Regions from separate parts of the Homo sapiens genome. Here all the other regions are linked to region 2. The links come from fine-mapping of genetic effects on gene expression. A gene starts in region 2. Each other region holds a variant in brackets. All regions are shown on one strand. Distances are from middle to middle.

Region 1 (5,973 bases), 96 kb before region 2:
TCACTGTAGCCTCAAACTCCTGGGTTCAAGTGATCCTCCCATCTCAGCCTCCTGAGTAGCTGGGACCACAGGCACTTACCACCGCTCCTGGCTGTTTTAAAAAATTATTTGTAGAGATGGGGTCTCACTATGTTGCCCAGGCTGGTCTGGAACTCCTACGCTTCAGTGATCCTCCCACCTCAGCCTCTCAAAGTGCTGGGATTACAGGTGTAAGCCACTGTTTTTAATTTTTGATGTTATAAATCATTCTGGCATTAGCATCGTGGATGGTGAATTATGATTTCTTTCAGTGTCTGAGCACTTGCTGTGTTCCCCTTCTGTTTGGGGTACAGTGCTCCCCACTTCAGTGAGGGCAACATCCACCCCCTCATCAGAAACCCAGAAACCCTGACTCCACCCTCCACCTCTCCCACCCGTAAACCTGCCAGCAAGTGCTACGTGGTGGGTGCCAATTCACCAACTGCTCCCCCCTGCTTCGTCCCTAGGTGAGGCGCCTTCTAAAGGGCCTTCCAGCCTCAGGCTGGCCCCTTCAGCCCACCCCCATGGCAGCTGGCGTGGCCTCTAACACCACTCCACCTCTTGCTTTTGGGATAGTATCTAAACTCTCTAGCAGGACCGTGCTGGACCAGCCTCCCTCCCCAGCCTCTGTCCCCACAAGCTCCTGCTCCCACTGCAGTGCTCCCGGGTCCTGCCAAACTGAGTTATTTCTCTTCTCCAAAGGCCCCAGGCCTTGGCTGGCTTCCAGGCTTCCCTCTGCACAAGCTTTTCTCTTGCATGCACTCCCCGCCCCTGCGTCCTCCCCAGACCATCCCCTGCCATCCCTCAAGTCTCAGCTGATGTGTCACTTCCTGTTAGAAGCTATCCTTGACCTTCTCCACTCTGCTCCCTGCCCCTTTTCCATGTGCCTTCAGCTCCATACTCCTCCCACCAGCCCCCACTCCCTCTGCTGGGAGCCTCATGAGGGCAGGCATTGAGCCTGCTGTGTTCCCTCTTGGCCAGGGTACTTTGCCTGGCACACAGAAGGTACCTAATTAATGCTTATTGGATCACTGGGTAGCTTAGGAAAGGGGAAGGCGCCCTGTTCGTGGACAAGCCCTGTGTGGGATGGTTTATAGCCTTGGGTTAGCTCATGTGAGCCCCATGCTGCTAGGAGAGAGAGTCATCCTCATTTTCAAGGGAAGGAACCAAAACTCAGAGAATTGCTTGCCCAAGGTCAGAAGGCCGGTCACCTGGTCACTGCCAAGCTGGTTGGAACTGGGGTCTGTCTGACACCCTGGCTCATGATTCTGCCTACCCCGTCCATCTCTGGCTTAGCGTGTTTTCAGGAGAAATCTATTCTCAAGGATGAAAAGCTTTTAACTGAGGAGAAGGATAAAAAATTTAGAAGAGAGGAAAGGGAAATAATACACATGGGTGGGAGAGGGAAGAGATGTGCCTACATAAAGTAACTAAGAAGCGGACAGACAGCAAGTGAGGGAGGGGGCGGGAGAAATTTGTCTAAATATGTGGCCTCAGCTATGTGGGTCACCGCGATTTGGAATTCACTTAATTTAGCTGCCTTCAGCACTGTGGTTTCTCCTTCGGATGTTGGAGGCGGAACTGGGCAGGAAAAATGTCATAAATTCATCAGCAAATTCCCTCCAGCTCTCAAGGTCTAGCCCTCGATTCCCAAAAGAGCTGGCCCTGGGTGAGTGTGGGCAGGCAGGGTGGAGGGTGAGAGCTGAGCTGCCTGGGATGGCCTGCACCCAAGAGACAGGAGGAGGAATGGCAGGAGGGTGGCGCTCTGCAGTGAGAGGGATTTAGGTTAGACTCGGTGAGGAGCGGATTCTCACAGTGACCAGCCAAGGGCAGTCAGAGACTCAGGAGACAGGACTGTTCCCAGGCTCAGGAGAGCCGGCAGGGAGCTGGGGACAACATGGAAGGGCCTGGACAGCACTCAGCTCTGGCCTAGAGAGGGCACAGATGCTGCTGGTTAGGAGGAGCCCAGGCCTGATTTTGGGGTTATTTGGGGTCAGGAGGTGGCATGATGCAGGCAGCCCCACCAAGAGGGTTCTTGGCTTGACCCAGTCATGAATTTGCCATAGAACCCTGGGAAAGCCACCTTGCTTCCCAGGAGCCCAGTTTTCCCCTGTGCTGGAAGTGACTTGGGATTGGAGCCCTGTTTTCACCACCAATGACTCTTATAGCTTTCCAATTTGCATTCATCATTGTCCACCACAGGACTCTTGGCAGCACAGTCTGGTTGCCAACCACCTCCCTGTGGGGCAATGGCATTGGCAGCCTTCCCATTCCTCATTGCTTCCATTCCAGGAAAAGGGAAGCAGCTGGCATCCTGGAGGGCCCATGGGGCCTTCTGTAGGTGGATGCGCACTCCTGCCACTCCTGGCAGCATGAAGGTGGCTGGAGGAACATGACTGCCCTTTGGGGCACCCAGTGGTCCAGGCATGCCTGTATTTACTGCCCTCCCATTTGTCTGATCTGCCCCCTCTTCCCTCCATCCCGGCCCCAGGCTCCCCCTCCATTACCTGCTGGCCCCGCATAGCCTGGTGGATGGTGAGGCTCCGGTTGTTGTGCATGGTGAACAGGATGACCTTGCCCGTGTGGTTGAACCGGGGGGCTCCGGCCACGTACAC[C/T]CGCCCCTGCCTGGAGGACACGACCGATGTGACTGTGTACCCTGCCACAGGAGGAAACAGGCTGATCTTTGGCACCGTGTCCTCAGCAGGCGTTGCTTGGCCCGGTGCATGGCTTGGCAGTGCCAGAGGATGGGCCAGTGATGGGGTAGGTTCAGGGCTAGCTGAGCAGATTCAATCACGCAGGGCCATAATTCCTAGGGGCAGCTGGGGAGGCCTGGAAGAGGCAGGACCCAGGAAGGGGGTTTGGAGGGTAGGGAGAACTCACTGCACCCCAGCCCCTGCTGGAGAAAATAAAGGAAGCCAGGTGGGACTGCTAAAAGACTAACTTGAAATGCACACATCCCTCCTTCACCTGCTCATGAGCACAGCAGAGGGCAATGGGGAGTAGGGCAGACTCTAGCCTCACTTCAGTTAATACTGGGGAGACTTTGTTTTGGTTCCCCACCAATCTTCACTCTTGGAGACTAACCAGGGTTCTCTTTATTACCACAAACGCCTGCTAAGTGGCTCACTGAGGACTAGAGTGTGAGCCGTAAATGTGGAAGGAGTTGGTCTGCTTCAGATATTTACATGGGGTCTCAGGGATTCTTGCAGCCCCAAAGCTTTGCAGACTCAAAGGTGGAAGCTCCTAGGCTCTTGTCAGCCCCATACATACAGCATGCCAAAGAGAAAGAAAAGGAACCCCAGGGGCTCTTTTGGAAAGGCTGCCAATCCCCGCTCCCGGTATGGCTGTGCCTGATCACTGTGAATCTCAAGTCGCCCACCCAGTACCCAGGAAGCAAATGTGCAGCAACTTCAGGCAACTCTCCTGAAAGTGGGCTCCAGCAGGTGTGGAAAGCCGATGGCATCCTAGAATTCCACTTTCTGCCAGATAATCTTGGATCCCAGATTTTAGATGAGTGTTGGACTTTGTTGACAGTTCCTGGGCTGTTTCTGGGGAACAGATGTCCCCTGCAATGCACGTGTGTGAGTGTGTGTGTGCACATATATGCGTGTGCATCTGCGTATCTGTGTGTGTAACACTGTCACTTGGGTCTCATTGGCTGCTTCTAGAGTGGCTATAGGGTGTACAGATGAGCTGACTCAGTGCCTGGGGGTGAACTGCTCTGGTTCCAGACACAACAGTTTTCACTCTTGAGGCTGTACTTTGGGAAATGAGGCTTGACAGGTCCATAATACCAAGACCTCACAAGGGGTGGCTAACATGGCCATGTATTTAGAGCAATCATAAATATATGGGTGGGTGGGCTTAGCCTTGTGGTGTAGGGCAAAGGTTTCTTCTGAGCTGAGCCCTCAGTGGCACTACTGTAAATGTTCTCAGTTGGTCTTGGGCTTCTGGGCCTGCTTGGAAGGAGGGGCACTGAGATGCAGTTTGAGGTCCAAGTGTCCTCTGGGCAGGCATGGGTCAGCATTCAAAGTTCACAGAGCTTCCTGCCTTCCAGCTGTCTGTGGGCAGCACCTTTGGTACCCAGGCAACTCTCTGGCCAGCAGGAAGGGCCATTCTGAGGCTGGGCCAGCCTCCCTGAAGGCCTGATGAAAGGGTAGGACCATGGCCCGAAATTTATACTGCACCCCCAGTGGAGGCTGGGAGCTGGCCTCCTGGTCTCCTTCCCCTGTAGGGCTCCTCTCCCTTGAAACACAGGAGGAATCTTCCAGCAGGCATCTCTGCCCCAGCAGAGAACCCAGACACTGCTCTCACTGGATGACTCCTAGACGGAGGAGGAGGAGGAGAAAAGGCACTCCCTCAAGACCCCCACCCAAGGCAGTGACTGTGGCTAAGGCATGACAGCTGGGCCTCATGAGTGTCCATCAGCCAAGCTCTACCCTATCAGGGTCTTCTGGGAGGGGAAGCAGGGTGGCTTTGCTGGGCCAGGGGGATATTCATCCTGCTGAGCTCTCACTCAGATATGTTCAGCTCCCTGTTGCCAACATGAAAAAGCTCAAACGTCTTAATCTGGCATTCGAGGCCTCCTGCTACAGTCTATCCCAACCTTCCCTCTCCTCCATGTTCCCACTTCTGCCCCCTGCTCCAGCCACACTCATCTACTTCTTGGGTCCTGAAATAACCTGGTATTTCCCACATGTTCCTCCTTTTCTTGGCCCTTCTTGGCTTATTTGAAATGGCCCCTGCGGTGGAGACCTGGTGTAGGCTCCAGCTCCTACACAGTAGGTCCCGAGTGTACCAGCTCGCTGGACCATGGCCAACCACATCGTTTCTCTGACTCACTTGGAATTAACCTCATGGGCCCTGGGACACCCTGATGTGATCTGCCTTGCTGTTTAATGCCTCGAGGCACCTGCACCTTGCACCCCTTCTTTGGTTTCCTCACTTCCAGCACAGGGCTGTACACTTGGGAGGAAACACAATAAAACACGAGTCATTCTAGTTTCTAGTTAAAGGGTTGCTAGCCTTTGTTCTTCCAGCATCTTTCCCAGTGTTTGAGCATTTGCCAAGGCAAGGACTCCAATCTTTCTCTCCTTTATTTGTGCTTTTATCTGAGCTCCTACCTCAATTGTGTTATAATTATCTGCGCACATGTCTGTGTCTCCCACTGGCCCAGAAGCAGCTTGAGGGCAGGCGCTGTGTCCTGCTTACCACGGCACTTAACATGGCACTCTGATGGCATCAACTGCAGGTGCTATGCAATTCAGGTTTAACACCTTGCGAATTAAATGGAACGCAGGCCCTAGGGCCAGGTGCTGTTGGGAAACTTCTAGGGATCTACATTTCTGAATTTTCTAGCACAGTCCTGATTCCAGCATTTTGCCCTTTTGTCAGCTGAGGGTCCCATGGTTGGGGATAGAAAACAGGGTAACCACAGGGTGGGCAGAGTCATAGGCAGGGTATTGGCTAACGAGCTGAGGAACAAAGGTTGGGATGGGATGAAGCATCAGAAAGATGGACGCATGGACAGATTCGCTGTCCACTCTGGGTGGCCCCAAGTCCATGGAGGAGTGGGGTCCGAGGAGGCCTCAATGAGGAGTAACTTCACAGACAGTGGATTTGGTTCAGAAATTCTGAAAGACCCAGAGACAGTGGGGACCCTGAACATCACCCCCCTTGCCGCCCTCCCCTCTGGCCCTTCCTTTAGAAAGGAACAAGCCATGGCGAATGGGACATGCCTGGGGATGGCCAGGTGACTGCTCCTGCAGAGCTGGAAGGTGACTTTGGCCAGCAGGCTAAGGCCTCGCTGCTGGGACCTTCACCATCAATGATTTGTGCTTCTATCTAGATATCCACTTCCAAAGTGCTTCATGGGCAGCGACTTCTGCCTTGATTATGAACATTAAGAAATAAAAATGAATGCAGGTTCCACTCGACTTGCGTTTTGCCTTTGGG
Region 2 (5,973 bases):
TGGCCTCTGACAGGTTCCCTGCCCAGCCAAACTGCCATCACCAGTAGACAAGCTTCCTGGTAATCCTCACATTGAATTCATGTGATGCATGGATGAGGTATCAACATCAGTCCTGTCCTGGAGCCTGAGGAGTGAACCCAATGATCCCTGAGACCCTTCTAGTCTTCAAAGTCCACACTGACCAGAGTGGTTTTAAAATATTCATCATCTTCTTTAACTAGTCTCAGAAAATAATACTCCAAAATATGAACATTCCCACTTTCAGGCCCATGCACACTCTACACACTTTTCCAGGGCCAGTTCAAATGATATCTCCTCCTCCAGGAAGCCTTCCTTGCTTATCTGGCTGAAATTGAACTTCTCTTGTTTGAACACCCAGCCCTTGGTTTCCCCAAGCCATTCACTCCCTGGTGCCTCTGTTTAGCTTTCCCTGGCCTTGGCTTATTCTCAGTTACAGGCAGGACCCAGATTGCACACACGCTAGGGCCCCACCCCCAGCTCCTTGCAAGCAGATGTCATTGTTCCAACATTGATTGATATGTTTAATGAATCCCATATTTCAAGAATGCAACTGACCAGACATAACTCAGGAGTGGTTTTCGCCATATAAGCGGAGCTCTGAGTCACAAATCCTGTGTCTTCAGAGGTCCTTTAATGTCATTCTCTGCCCCCTCCTCCTTGAGTAGCAACAACATTAACAACCATTGATTAAAGCCTACTGTGCACCCAGCCCTGTGTTAAGGGCCTTTCTTACAGTGCCTTAGTGCATCCTGACAACTTTACAGGACACGGAATTTGTGTCTCCATTCTTCACATAAGGAAACCTGTTGGAAAGGTCGCATAACCAGTCCAAGATTGAACAGCTAGCAGGGTGCAGAGCCAGAAGTGGAAGCCAGGTCTGATTCCAAAGCCATTGCTCTTAGCTTCCTGAGGTCCAGGCTGTCCCTAGCCCCTAAGGCAGCCACTCCTTCCCAAGGTTCTGATGCAGCCACCTATCTGGAGTCACACAGGAGTGCGTCTCTTTTCTTGTGGCTGGATCTCCTAGTGATATGAGGACAGTTCCTGGAGAAGATTCTCCCCTCCTGTCTAAACACACCTAAATGGGCTTGGCCTCCTCCCGCAGCTGGCTTCTAGTTGCATATTGGCCTGGTGGCAGTTCTTCCCCTGCTCTCCCTTCCAAGCCCCCACAACTCAATGTATCAATGATTGTTTTAAACTGTGACTCTAGGATTCCACTAGCCAGAGGCCCTTTCAACCATGGGCCCTCTGAGAAGCTCCTCTGTAGGCCGACAGGAGGGTGGACTTGCTTCGCGTGGTACCCGGGGACTGGGGCAAGCGGCTGCGGGATAGGGGTCTCCACCTGAGCTCCCTGAGGGCACCTCTCCCACTACCACCGCATCTGACCCCCACTACTGGCCCCAGCTCGGGCCTGGAGCCCACGCAGAAGGGGAGGCAAGGTTGAGCGCCCACACCCGGCCAGTAACCGAGGCGCTGGCCCTTGCCGGAGCACTTGGCCGTCTTCCGCAGAACAGCATCACTGGCAGCCGCCCCGCGTGGAGGGTGGAGCCGGGGAGCCCGGTGTGGGACGGCCGGGGCCAGGGTACCCTAGGGCGGAGAGCTCAGGGCTGGCTTCCCGCTCCCAGCCGCGCGCCCCTCGGGCCGGAGGTTCCTGCCGCGCCCCGACACCTGGAGTGCATTAGGCGGCGGCGCGCGTCTAGGCGACGGCGGCTTTCCCCAGATTATTGAATAATTGCATAATTCCGAGCGCGGGTTGGGAGGCAATGCCGGGTCCCTACCCCGGGTGTCAGGTAACGTTTCGGGGGTCCTGCGCTGCGCGACTGTGTCCCGCCGCTGCTGGCCGGGCAGACGAGAGCTAGCCCCCGCCTACCGGCCATCGCCCCGGGGCTTTGCTCTGTCTTTGGCCGGAGGCACTCTGCGCAGCCCTCACCCCCACCCTTCAGCCCTCCGGGGCCGCCGCGCCCGGCTCTCCAAACTTTGAGATGCTTCCCCGGAGCCAGGCAGGAGGGCAGCCAGGGCACACTCTCTTGGCGCTGATTCCCTTCCCCAGCCGGGGCCGTGCGCCCTCGGCGCTCCCGGGACACCCGAGTGCCCCTGGCAGCCGTGCGGGAACCCCGGCATGGGCCTTGGAGGCACCTAAGGCGCCCAGGAGGGCCACCAGATCTGGGAGCTTTTCAACTCAAGCCTCTTCAACTCTTCCCAAACACACCAAAGAGTCCCGGCTTTCAATAGCCTTCGCACCTCCCTCTTTAGCGAAACTTGACTGAACCGCTAGACTGGGGCCAGTCCCTGGGGGACCCACGTCCCCAAGAGCAGCTGAGGTCTGACCCTGGGAGGAGGGTCGCGTCCCGATCCTGGCCGCTGGATCCAAGCCCCGAGGGCCCAGGGAGGGACTCCGAGAGGCAAGGGGAGGCAGAGGGTGGGCACCTACCTGGCCACAGGCTGAGCGCCCAGGCCACCACCAGGCCCCTGGGCAGGTCCATGGCCCGCGGCACGGCGGCTGGGTCCGGTGTGCAGCGGCGGCGGGGGGCGGCAAGCCAGAGCGGCAGCCTCCTCGGCGCGGCGCCTGCAGCCTGCACTGCGCGGGGCGCCGGGCTCCCTGACAGCTGCGGCTCATTCAGAGGAAGTGGGAGGGCTCGAGCGGAGGGGAGGGGCGCCGGACACCACTCCGGCTCGGGCTCTGGGCCAGTCTCGGCCGCTCTGCCACCTGGGCAGGCGGCGCGCTGCCTCGACGCGCCTGTGCAGCGCTCCTTCTCCGCCAACCCCACGTCAGCCTCTGGAGAAAACTCCAGAGAACCGCTCCTGGGAACCCCCTCACCAGTGTAGCACCGCACCGCCTCAGTCAGATTCTGTTCAGGAAAAGTGGTTTTTATTCCCATTTCCCAGTGAAAAGAGATTCACAAAACTCAGAGGGTACCCAAGCTGGCTCAGGAACACCTGCTGGAACGCAGGTCTCCCTTGGCCAAGTGAGTGGATGTCCCTCAAAGGTCCATTCTAAGACATCCCCGTGTCTCCCTGCACCCTGCGGCTTGAATTGTAGAGGCTAGTGTTTCTTCTGACCCTGGAATACATGCAGATTCGCCTCCACTGCCACTCCCTGAGCCTCCACACCTGAGGCATTCCAAAGCACCCAGGGACACCGTGCACCCCCTCTTAACCTAACGTGAAGCTCTTCTTTGTAACCCTGCCACCTTCTTTCCCTCTTCTAATCACTGGTAGTTAAATTCAATGCACATTTATCTCAAGAGCTTTAAATCCAGGCCCCGGACCTCCACCGCGCTTGTGGAGGCTTTTCCAGCAATGGAGGAAGCCGAGGCAGAGGGTAGGAAGGCCAAGATGCAGGGAAAGCCACAGCAGAGCGCCCTTCCCCCACTTTCTCAGGAAAGGCTTCCTTCACCCCCTCTTCCCGTCCCCACCAGGTTGAGTCCCAGACACATGCTGATATTCCCCAGCCCGCTCTCCCTCATTTCTCTTCATTGTGCTTAGTAGAGAAGCAAGGCATCAATTGGTGTGATCATTTAACTTTTCTCTCCTGTGCAGACTGAAAACACCATCAGGGTAGAAATCTCTGGTTCACAATGGAGTACTCAGCCCCTAACACCCAGGAACAAAGTAGGTGGGCGGGTGGATGGATGGGTGAGTACAGGTGGTGTGTGGGTGCACAAAGGATAGAGTTTTCTATCTGGGAGGTATTGGAAGGGCTTCCCAGAGGAGGTGATGTTCAGTCAGGGCCCCTGAAGATGAGCTGGAGTTTGAGAAGACCCAGGTTCACATAAGTGAAGTGGGCTTGTGCTCGTCTCCCAACCTCACTATCTTTCGGTTGGCTATCTGGGTTTTACTTCATCTTCACCTCACCCATTCAGCCACAGACTCGGGGAAGGTGATTCCGTCCCTGGTGTGTGTGTGTGTGTGTGTGTGTGTGTAAGGAGGCATGCGGTTCAGGCTGAAATGAATCAGTATGTTGCCCTTCCCAGCCCATCGTTTCAGAAAGGGCAATATGACAAAAGAAAAAGTTTTTTTGGGAAGCAAGCTTTCTTGCCTTTCTAAAAGAGCCCCTAGAACAAACAAACAAATGAACTAACTCTCTCTCCTCACCTCTCCCACTCCTGCCTCCTCTCCCAGCCTGGGACAAGGAACTTTGTAGGCTCAGAAGTTGACAGGGTCAGGGTAGGGAAGGAGGATCTGGCCTTGAGATGAGGTGGACACTGGATGACAGAATGGAGGATCTTGTTGAACTCCTGAATGAAGCCACCCCTTAACCCCACTCCCCTTGGGACTTATCAGTTATACGACAGTGAGTCCTCTTCACTGAGTTGAGTTTAAGCCAGCTGAGTTGAATGTAGAACACCCCTACAGCTAGGGAATGGGCTGCAGCCCACATTCCTGCCTTGCACAAATCTCCAGGTGCATCAGAACGACCTGGAGCACGTGCAAAGAATGCAAATTCCCCAAGGATCAGGGCATGCTGGTGGGTGCCCCAGGCACCTCTGACGTGTGGGTGGTCTGCAGCTTGTGCTCAGAGTCTGCATGCTGCTTGCTGAAGGGGCGCACTGTAGTGGCTGTCCTAGCTGCGCTGCTGCTGGTCTCGCTGGTAACAATTCTACCATTCATTCACCTTCACCGTCCTCACAGGTGCCTGGGGAATGGGGGTCCTGAGGATCACTCTGTGTGCTTTTGTGTAATGTGGGAGGGTGAGGGGAGAGGTGTGCCCTCATTTGTTCTTTCAACAGATCCTACAGAGTGCCTACTGTGCCCCTGTGCTCTGTAGGACACACGGAAGGAGAACCCCACACTAGGGCAGCTGGTGATGGAGCTGAGGAGACAAGACATAACCATGTATTTATTTAATCATAATCTGTTATTTATTAATCTATTTAAAACCATTTATTATTTCATCACTATTAAACATTATTTAAATCACACCCAAGGCAGCAGCATATGAGTGACAAGTGCACAATCCAGACTCTAAGGCTGGAGAACTGCAGAGAATTTGGTGAAGGGCTTTATGAAAGCTGTGATTTCTGTTGAATAATAATAATAACTCTTTACATGTACACAGTGTTTTAACTGATTTATTTATTCACATGCCATAAACTGTGCCATAGAATCCAGTAGTTGTTAGTATATTCACAAGATTGTAAAATCATCCTCACTAATTTCACAATATTTTTATCACCCCAAAAAGAAGCCCTGTAACCATGAGCAGTCACTCCCCATTCCTTCCCACCAGTCCCTGGCAACCACAAATCTATTTCTATGGATTTGCCTATTCTGGACGTTGCATATAAATGAAATCATATAATACGTGACCTTTTGAGTCTGGCTTCTTTCCCTTAGCATGATGTTTCCAAGGTTCATCCATGTTGCAACATGTATCAGTATTTCATTCCTTTTTATTGCCAAGTAACATTCCATTGTATGGATCTACCCCCTTTTGTTTATCCATTCATCAGGTGAGGCTTATTTAGGTGTTTCCACTTTAGGTTATTGTGAATAATGTGGCTATGAACACTTGTGCTGCCGGTCTTGCTGGTAGCAGTTCTACCATCCATTAACATAGCATAATGTTAGCATAATGTTCATACAAGTTTTTGTATGAATGTATGTTTTCAGTTCTCTTGGGTATACACCTAGGAGTGGAATTGCTGATCATATAGTAATTTTATGTTTAATCATTTGAGGAACTGCCAAACTATTTTCCACAGTTGCTACATCATTTTAGATTCCTACCAACAATGTACAAGTGCTATGTATAGTGTTTTACTATTTTTGAAATCCCTTTCATATCCATGATCTAATTTAATACTCATCTTGTACAAAATTGTATTTATTTTTTATAGTAAAGAGATTGTATAGTTGAAGATTCTTTCACTTGCAAGTGACAGAAATTCAACACAATCAAACTGAAGCAGAAAATAGAATGTAAAAGGTCATGTAACTAGGAAGTGCAAAGGT
Region 3 (5,973 bases), 88 kb before region 2:
CCAGAGGCCCTGTGAAATCAGAAGGACAGATGTTCATTATTTGCACTTGACAAATGAGCCGTTGAGGTTCAGAGGGGGAAGGGACTTGCCCAAGGTCACACAGCAAGTCAGAGGCAGGGCTGGGGCTTTGACCAGAGAGGTAAGTAGGGCAGAGAAGAAAACATCTATCTGTTTCCCCAAAGCCTGCTGTGGGTCCAGCTTTCCATTTTCCACCTGAACCCTCCTGAGGGAGGGGCGCAGTATTTGGGGTCTGACTTTCTTCCTTGCTTTCCTCCCTCTCTCTGCCTGTTGAGTCCAAGTTTGTAACTGCAGACCTGGCTTCTGTGCTTCATGGACAGGCCTTTGAAGATGAATTTCTGGCTCTGCAGATGACAGGGAGCCCCTGTGATGTACTGAGAAGGGCTGGCTTGGCCCAGGGGCGTGGGATTCAGCCGGGGAGACCCCTCACACTGATTCTCCCTATGGGAGCTTGGGGAATTCCGTCATGACTTCTGGATTTGGCAACACTTGGCCAGGCGATCGCTTACAGTCTCCCACCTCATCCCATTTTAACCCTGACAGCAGCTGCAGTCTTGGGCCTGCAGTGGGAGGCCCTTTCCTGAGAGTGAATTTGTTGTGGCCAGGGAGAGTCTTCTGAGGATGGGGACACTGTGAGGAGTAGACAGGTTAAGGCCACTGAAGCAAGCCTTAGTATGTCACAATCTCTTCCCAGCTGGGGAAGCCCAGACATTTTGAGTTTAGAAAAATCTAGAAGGGTGGGGCAAAAAAAGAGAAGGGACCAAATCCTTAATAGGGGAAGTCAGGCACGTGGGCCCAGCTGGCAAACAAACAGTGGGCATTCCCGGGAAGAGCTGTGTCCCCCGCTCTGCAGGCCTCGCACTGGCTTCCTGTTTTATAGCCTCCTTTCCTATGTGGGGCCACCTGGGCTCCCACCAGATATTACCAGGGTGTGCCTGGGTGGCCTTGCACGAGGGGACCTTCCCCACAAGCTGATTTTCCTGGCGTTCTGTGTAGACATGAGGTCTCAGGCTTGGCAGCTGTCAGAAGGTCTGAGGCCACGCTGTGCCTTCCCAAAGGACGTTGTAGCCCTAGCACCTGCAGTGTGTGTAGCTCCCTCCACCAGACCCTGCCAACTCAGCTCTCAGCTGCCCTCTGACCTGGCCTCTGAGGCAGTCTTGCCTTCCCAGCTGAGCTGCGTGCTCCCAGGGTGTGTGACCATATCTCTCAAAGCCCTGTGTTCCGGCCAGTCCATGTCCCAAGCCAGGGTTGGACCACAGCCCCGGCAGTGAAGGCAGCATGGTCTAGGGCAGTGCTGCTCAGCCGGGGCAGGTTTGTGCCCTAGGTGATATTTGCTTGTTACAGCTGGGGGTAGTGGTGGGGGTGCTACTGGTGTCTAGTGAGTCGAGGCCAGAGATGCTGCTAACCATCCTACAATGCACCAGATGGTCCCTTACGGCAGAGTTATCCAGCCCAAGATGTCACTAGGACAGAGGTGGAGGATCCCTGGCGTGGTGGTGAGAGCAGGAAGGAGTTCTGGAGTCAGAGGCTTCTGAGTTCCACTTCCAGCTCAGAGCTTCTAGCTGTGTGACCCTGGGCAAGTTCTTCTCTCTCTCTCTCTCTCTCTCTCTCTCTCTCTCTCTCTCTCTGAACCTTGAGTTCCTCAGCTGTAAAATAGTTCTGTTGTGAAAATCAGCATTTTTAATTCTTAGCAGGGCACTTGGCAGCCAGTGAGTACTTGGTACATGGTAGCTCTTCTCGTTCATGAATCCATCTGTAAGCATCTCCCCAGTGGTCGGGAGTCGAAGAATCAGGTGTCACAGTCACGTTCGTCATTGCGGTAGCATGTGAGAAGTGCTCTGATGGAGTCAGGGACCGGTTATTTTGGCAGTCCCAGGAGCAGGTGAACAACTGAGAAGAGGGGGTGAGTACATAGTAGGGTTAGGAAAGGCTTTTAAGAAAATCTTACTTGATTTATTAGTAAGTCTCAAAACGAACACTTCCAGTTCCAAGCCTTGATTCGATTTCACAAATATTCTTCAGACATCTACTAAGACAAGCTCAGACAGGTCAAATGATTTTTCTGAGCCCACATGCCAGACAGTGCTTCCCTCTTGCCCAGTAGTCACGGAATTAGGATACCAGGTGCCAGTAATTCTTCCTTCTAGCTCTTTTTGGCTTTTGTGAGGCAAGACGATGGAGCCAGGTGGAGGTAGTCGCTGGTGGTGCTGTGGGCTGGTGTGATGGGAGACCCCTAGAGGACACCGAGGCTGTCCTCCCCCGCCAAACTCCCGAGAGTCCACGTCAGAGTGGCTGTAGAGGGGTGAGGCTCTGTTCCCAGGAGCCCCTTCTAAGGCACATACACCATTTAGAGGGTGGATTATGCTTTTTCACTAATGGCTTGGAGTCTTAGAAGGCTTGTTTCAACAAGCTTGAAGTGGACCTGAGGAAGGGATGAATGGCCAGGAGGCTTAAATGGGGTGTGGGCAGGAAAGGCCCAGAAACAGCCCCTCTGCCTTTCTGTGGAGGAGGGGCCCTCACCATGTGCGGTGCTGGAATCCGGCAGCTGGGGTGAGCAGAAGGGGCCGCGGGGACCTGGGCGTGCTACACTGACTGCTCATTCCCCATCAGAGTTGGTTGCCTCCTGTCAGAGGCCCTGGGAAAGAGACCCAGGAGTGGGCACTAGGGCACAGCCTGAGGATATGGGGCCAGGCTTAGGAGGACCCGAATGAACCAGAAATGATTCCTGCCACCAGGAGACAACTCGCAAACCCTTGGGACCAGCGTGGCAGAGGACCTCAGCTGCTGTGTCCTGGACCCCTGGGGAGAGGGCCAGGAGACCATCTTGACTGCCCGCCC[A/G]GCCTGGCAGGTGAAGGAGTCTATTGTTTAGGTCTAGGGGGGCACAGGAGGGGTTTACAGCTTCCACAGGTCAACTCCTCAATTCACCATTATCCATCAGCTTCTCTCATTTTTTGTTGAATCAGATACGCAAAACCAGTTCAAATGCGAAACCCTTAGGGAAGATTACACCTCTAAAGCTTCAGCCACTAAGAACCTTAGCGAATAGCCAATACCCTTCATTGTCTAGACCTCAATCCCAGGAGGGCCTGTGGGATGGGCACAGGCTGAAGAGGCAGGAGGGTGGCTGGGGTAGCTCATCTGGGATGTTTATACCTCCAGAGGGGGACTAGACTCGAAGACTCGGTAATCCCATGGGCCTTGAGGGGAAGAAGCGGAGGGAGAAAGAGGACTACAAATAATTGATGCGCATGGGTGATGGTGCTGCAGAGGACCCTCCCACACAGGGCTCAGCTGAACTTGACCTGCTTCATAACAGAACTGAGCACTGGTCCTGTTAGGTCATCACGTGCAGGGTAAGTGACCTCACCTTTAGGTACAAGAGAAAAAGGATCTCTTCCCACCTTGGGTGAGTCACCAAGGTTTCTGCGTAGACAAGATCTACCCTGATAAAACTGCTTCCTTCTGTAAACTTTTGGAGTTAGGGCAGATTTAGGATTCCAGTGTAGGAAGGCGGATGCGAAATCCCTCCAGCTGAGCCCTCTGCACACCGTCACCCATGCCCATCAATTCTTTGTAGTCCTCTTTCTCCCTCTGCATCTTCCCCTCAAGGCCCATGGGATTACAGAGTCTTAGAGTCTAGTCCCCCTCTGGAGGTGTGAATCCCTTCTCCCAACTTTCTGGCAGATTGTTGCAGCTCCTGCTTGATTACCCAGCTTGACAGGTAGTTCACTACCTCAGCAGACAGCCAGCACTAATGGAAGCCACTCTGGCTCTTAGTGACCTTTGCGTTCATTTCCAAATGCTAATGGAAGCATTAGCTTAAAAATGTATTCTAAAGTCTGACCAGGGATCCACAGCTAGCCTTCCTGATGATAATTTTTGGAATATTTTCTTTCCCCTTTCTGCAAATCAAGACTAGGGTTTCCAGCTACCCGGGTTTTCCCAATGGCTCAGACGTTTTGCCTTCAGCCTGGAATGTAATGTTTTGGGGCCCTGGACTCTGTGGGTGTCCAGGTGATGTCTTGGGGTCTCCCCTGTACCCTGGGCTCTGGTCCCTTCTCTCTCCTGTTGTTTTTACCCTTGCTAATTCAAAGACTGATTTCCTTGCTCATTAAGACGGCAGCAAACCAAGCAAGGAGGAGCCGGGCCTTTCTTCTGCCATCTGAGAACATTCTACTAGGGATCTCTCCTTCTACCAGAACTAAACAGGCCCGGGGAAGCCCCTCAGGCTCCTTCAGTATCTCTTCAGGCAGCAGCTGTTTGAGACCATCTGTGGCGCTTCTGGCAGGGAGGAAGCCTGGGGGCTTGCCTGGGAGACAGACATGCTCAGGGCAAAGTGGAAAGGCTGGACCCAATAGCCCTGATCCCCAGAGAGGCCTAACTGACCCTGAGAGCTGAGGAGTTGGACTCCTGGGGACAGGATGGCTGTGGCCATTCATGATGGCATCAGCGGCCTGGCACTGAAAGACGTCTGTGCTCTAAAATAGCCCCCAGTGCCCGGTCACAGAGCCAGCCAGCCCATCATGCTTGCACCATTCCTGTGCATTTGAAAGGTTTTTGTTTTTGTTTTTGTTTTTAATACTAAAGAGTCTCAGATTCAAATGCGATCGTTGTCTCTCTTAAAGTCAAATTAGATGAAAATATCAGGGGTGATGGAAGAACTAGGGTATGAGGAAGAGTCAAGCTAGGTCCCTGTGTCGGGGTGATGGAAGAACTAGGGTATATGGGAGAGGCAAGCTGCATCCCTCTGCCTGGGGAACAGAGAAGTTGAGCATATGTGGAAGGGGCTGCACATGGCAGTCATGACCTTGACGTGACCGAAGTCTTGTGCTGAGGCTGTGAGCTCCTGGGTCTCCTCACTCTGGAAGCTGGGGAACCTGTTGATCCTGCAAGGACTCACCTTGCTCAACACTGAACTGCTGGAGCCATTTTCAAGGCTCAGCTCAAGCTTCCCTGAGTCCCTGAAGCCCATTTTAATGTCCTCCTCTTTTTAGATTCCCCGATTCCTAGGCAGACACAGATCATGATTTTAGAAGCAGGACAGTGAGCTGATTATTTAAGAGTCTTTCTCCCCAGCTAGGCTATGAATGGCTGTCAGCTGAAATGTTTCTTTAATGTACCTGGTACAGAGTCTGACACACATGAAGATACTCAAAAAATGGCTGTGAATGGACAAAGGAAACATTGGGACATTCATTTTCTCTTCTGTCCCCAACACCAGGGCTGACCTCTGAGCTGTGCCAGGATGTCACCCAGTGTGTGTCCATAATGCTCTCTGTTCTCCTGCTTACTGCCACCCAGGACTGCTGAAATCCGTGTCCTTTAGGGGCAGCTCGAGTGCCAAGCCCTCTCCGGATCTTTCCCTGACCACCCCTTCTTTTAGTGGAGGCCCTTCCTTCTATACTACCTTGATCACGTTGCTTTGGTTAACATTAGACATGTGCATGTCTCCCCCTATCCCCTGCATTGAGCAGGGGGTCTTCACAGGGGATCTTCGGATGAGGGGGGCCTCCAGGTATTGTACACTTTTACCTAGAAGGCATCTATAGTTTCTTTCATCCTACTCTCAAAGCTAAGAACTGCCGTTCAGGATTGTTTACAAGTTGACTCCTGGTGGCAAGAATCATTTCCGGGTCCTTTCAGCACTTTAGTGGCACTTGACAAATGCATGTAGATTTAATTAAATTGCATTTCCTTGTTGCGTTTTCTAATCAGCTCTGACGTCAGAGTCTGGAGACCAGGGCTGGTCCTGCCAGAGCACATGACTCTGCTGGCCCCCACATGAATGGATGCTCTCACCTCGCTGTGCTGGGCTCTTTACCCTCAGACTCTGAGCTCCTTGAGGGCAGGGCTCCCGCCTCTGATTCTCCTGGCATCAGGCTCAGGACCCAGCACAGAGAAGGCACTGAAAAGAGTGGCTGATCCAACCACCTAAAATGGGATAACTATCATCAC

Alleles and levels. Positions count from the first base shown, and alleles are read on the strand shown. Sizes are in standard deviations (SD) of each study's normalised expression. Not every link is listed here.
For the expression in monocytes after LPS of the gene that starts at base 2,598 in region 2, A is the low allele of the variant in region 3 and G is the other (small effect, 0.39 SD a copy in Quach 2016).

The links. PIP is the estimated chance that this variant, and not a neighbour inherited with it, causes the effect. A credible set is the group of variants that fine-mapping cannot tell apart.
Region 1: its variant is the best candidate, but not a certain one, in a credible set for the expression of ITGA11 in cerebellar hemisphere (GTEx, PIP 0.74).
Region 3: its variant is the best candidate, but not a certain one, in a credible set for the expression of ITGA11 in monocytes after LPS (Quach 2016, PIP 0.85).

What each region holds. Positions count from the first base shown.
Region 1 is chr15:68,333,172-68,339,144 of GRCh38, forward strand. It overlaps ITGA11 (integrin subunit alpha 11), which reads right to left. Exons shown (of 30, transcript NM_001004439.2): 12 at 2,526-2,674. Among named protein-coding and RNA genes, the nearest start is that of FEM1B, 58 kb to the left of the region's middle. The variant C/T (reference allele first, on the strand shown) is at 2,634.
Region 2 is chr15:68,429,566-68,435,538 of GRCh38, forward strand. It overlaps ITGA11 (integrin subunit alpha 11), which reads right to left and starts at 2,598. Exons shown (of 30, transcript NM_001004439.2): 1 at 2,450-2,598. The coding sequence starts at 2,501. RefSeq lists an enhancer at 999-1,758 and a silencer at 4,305-4,599.
Region 3 is chr15:68,341,395-68,347,367 of GRCh38, forward strand. The region is part of intron 10 of ITGA11 (integrin subunit alpha 11); the gene reads right to left. Among named protein-coding and RNA genes, the nearest start is that of FEM1B, 67 kb to the left of the region's middle. RefSeq lists an enhancer at 465-1,060. The variant A/G (reference allele first, on the strand shown) is at 2,857.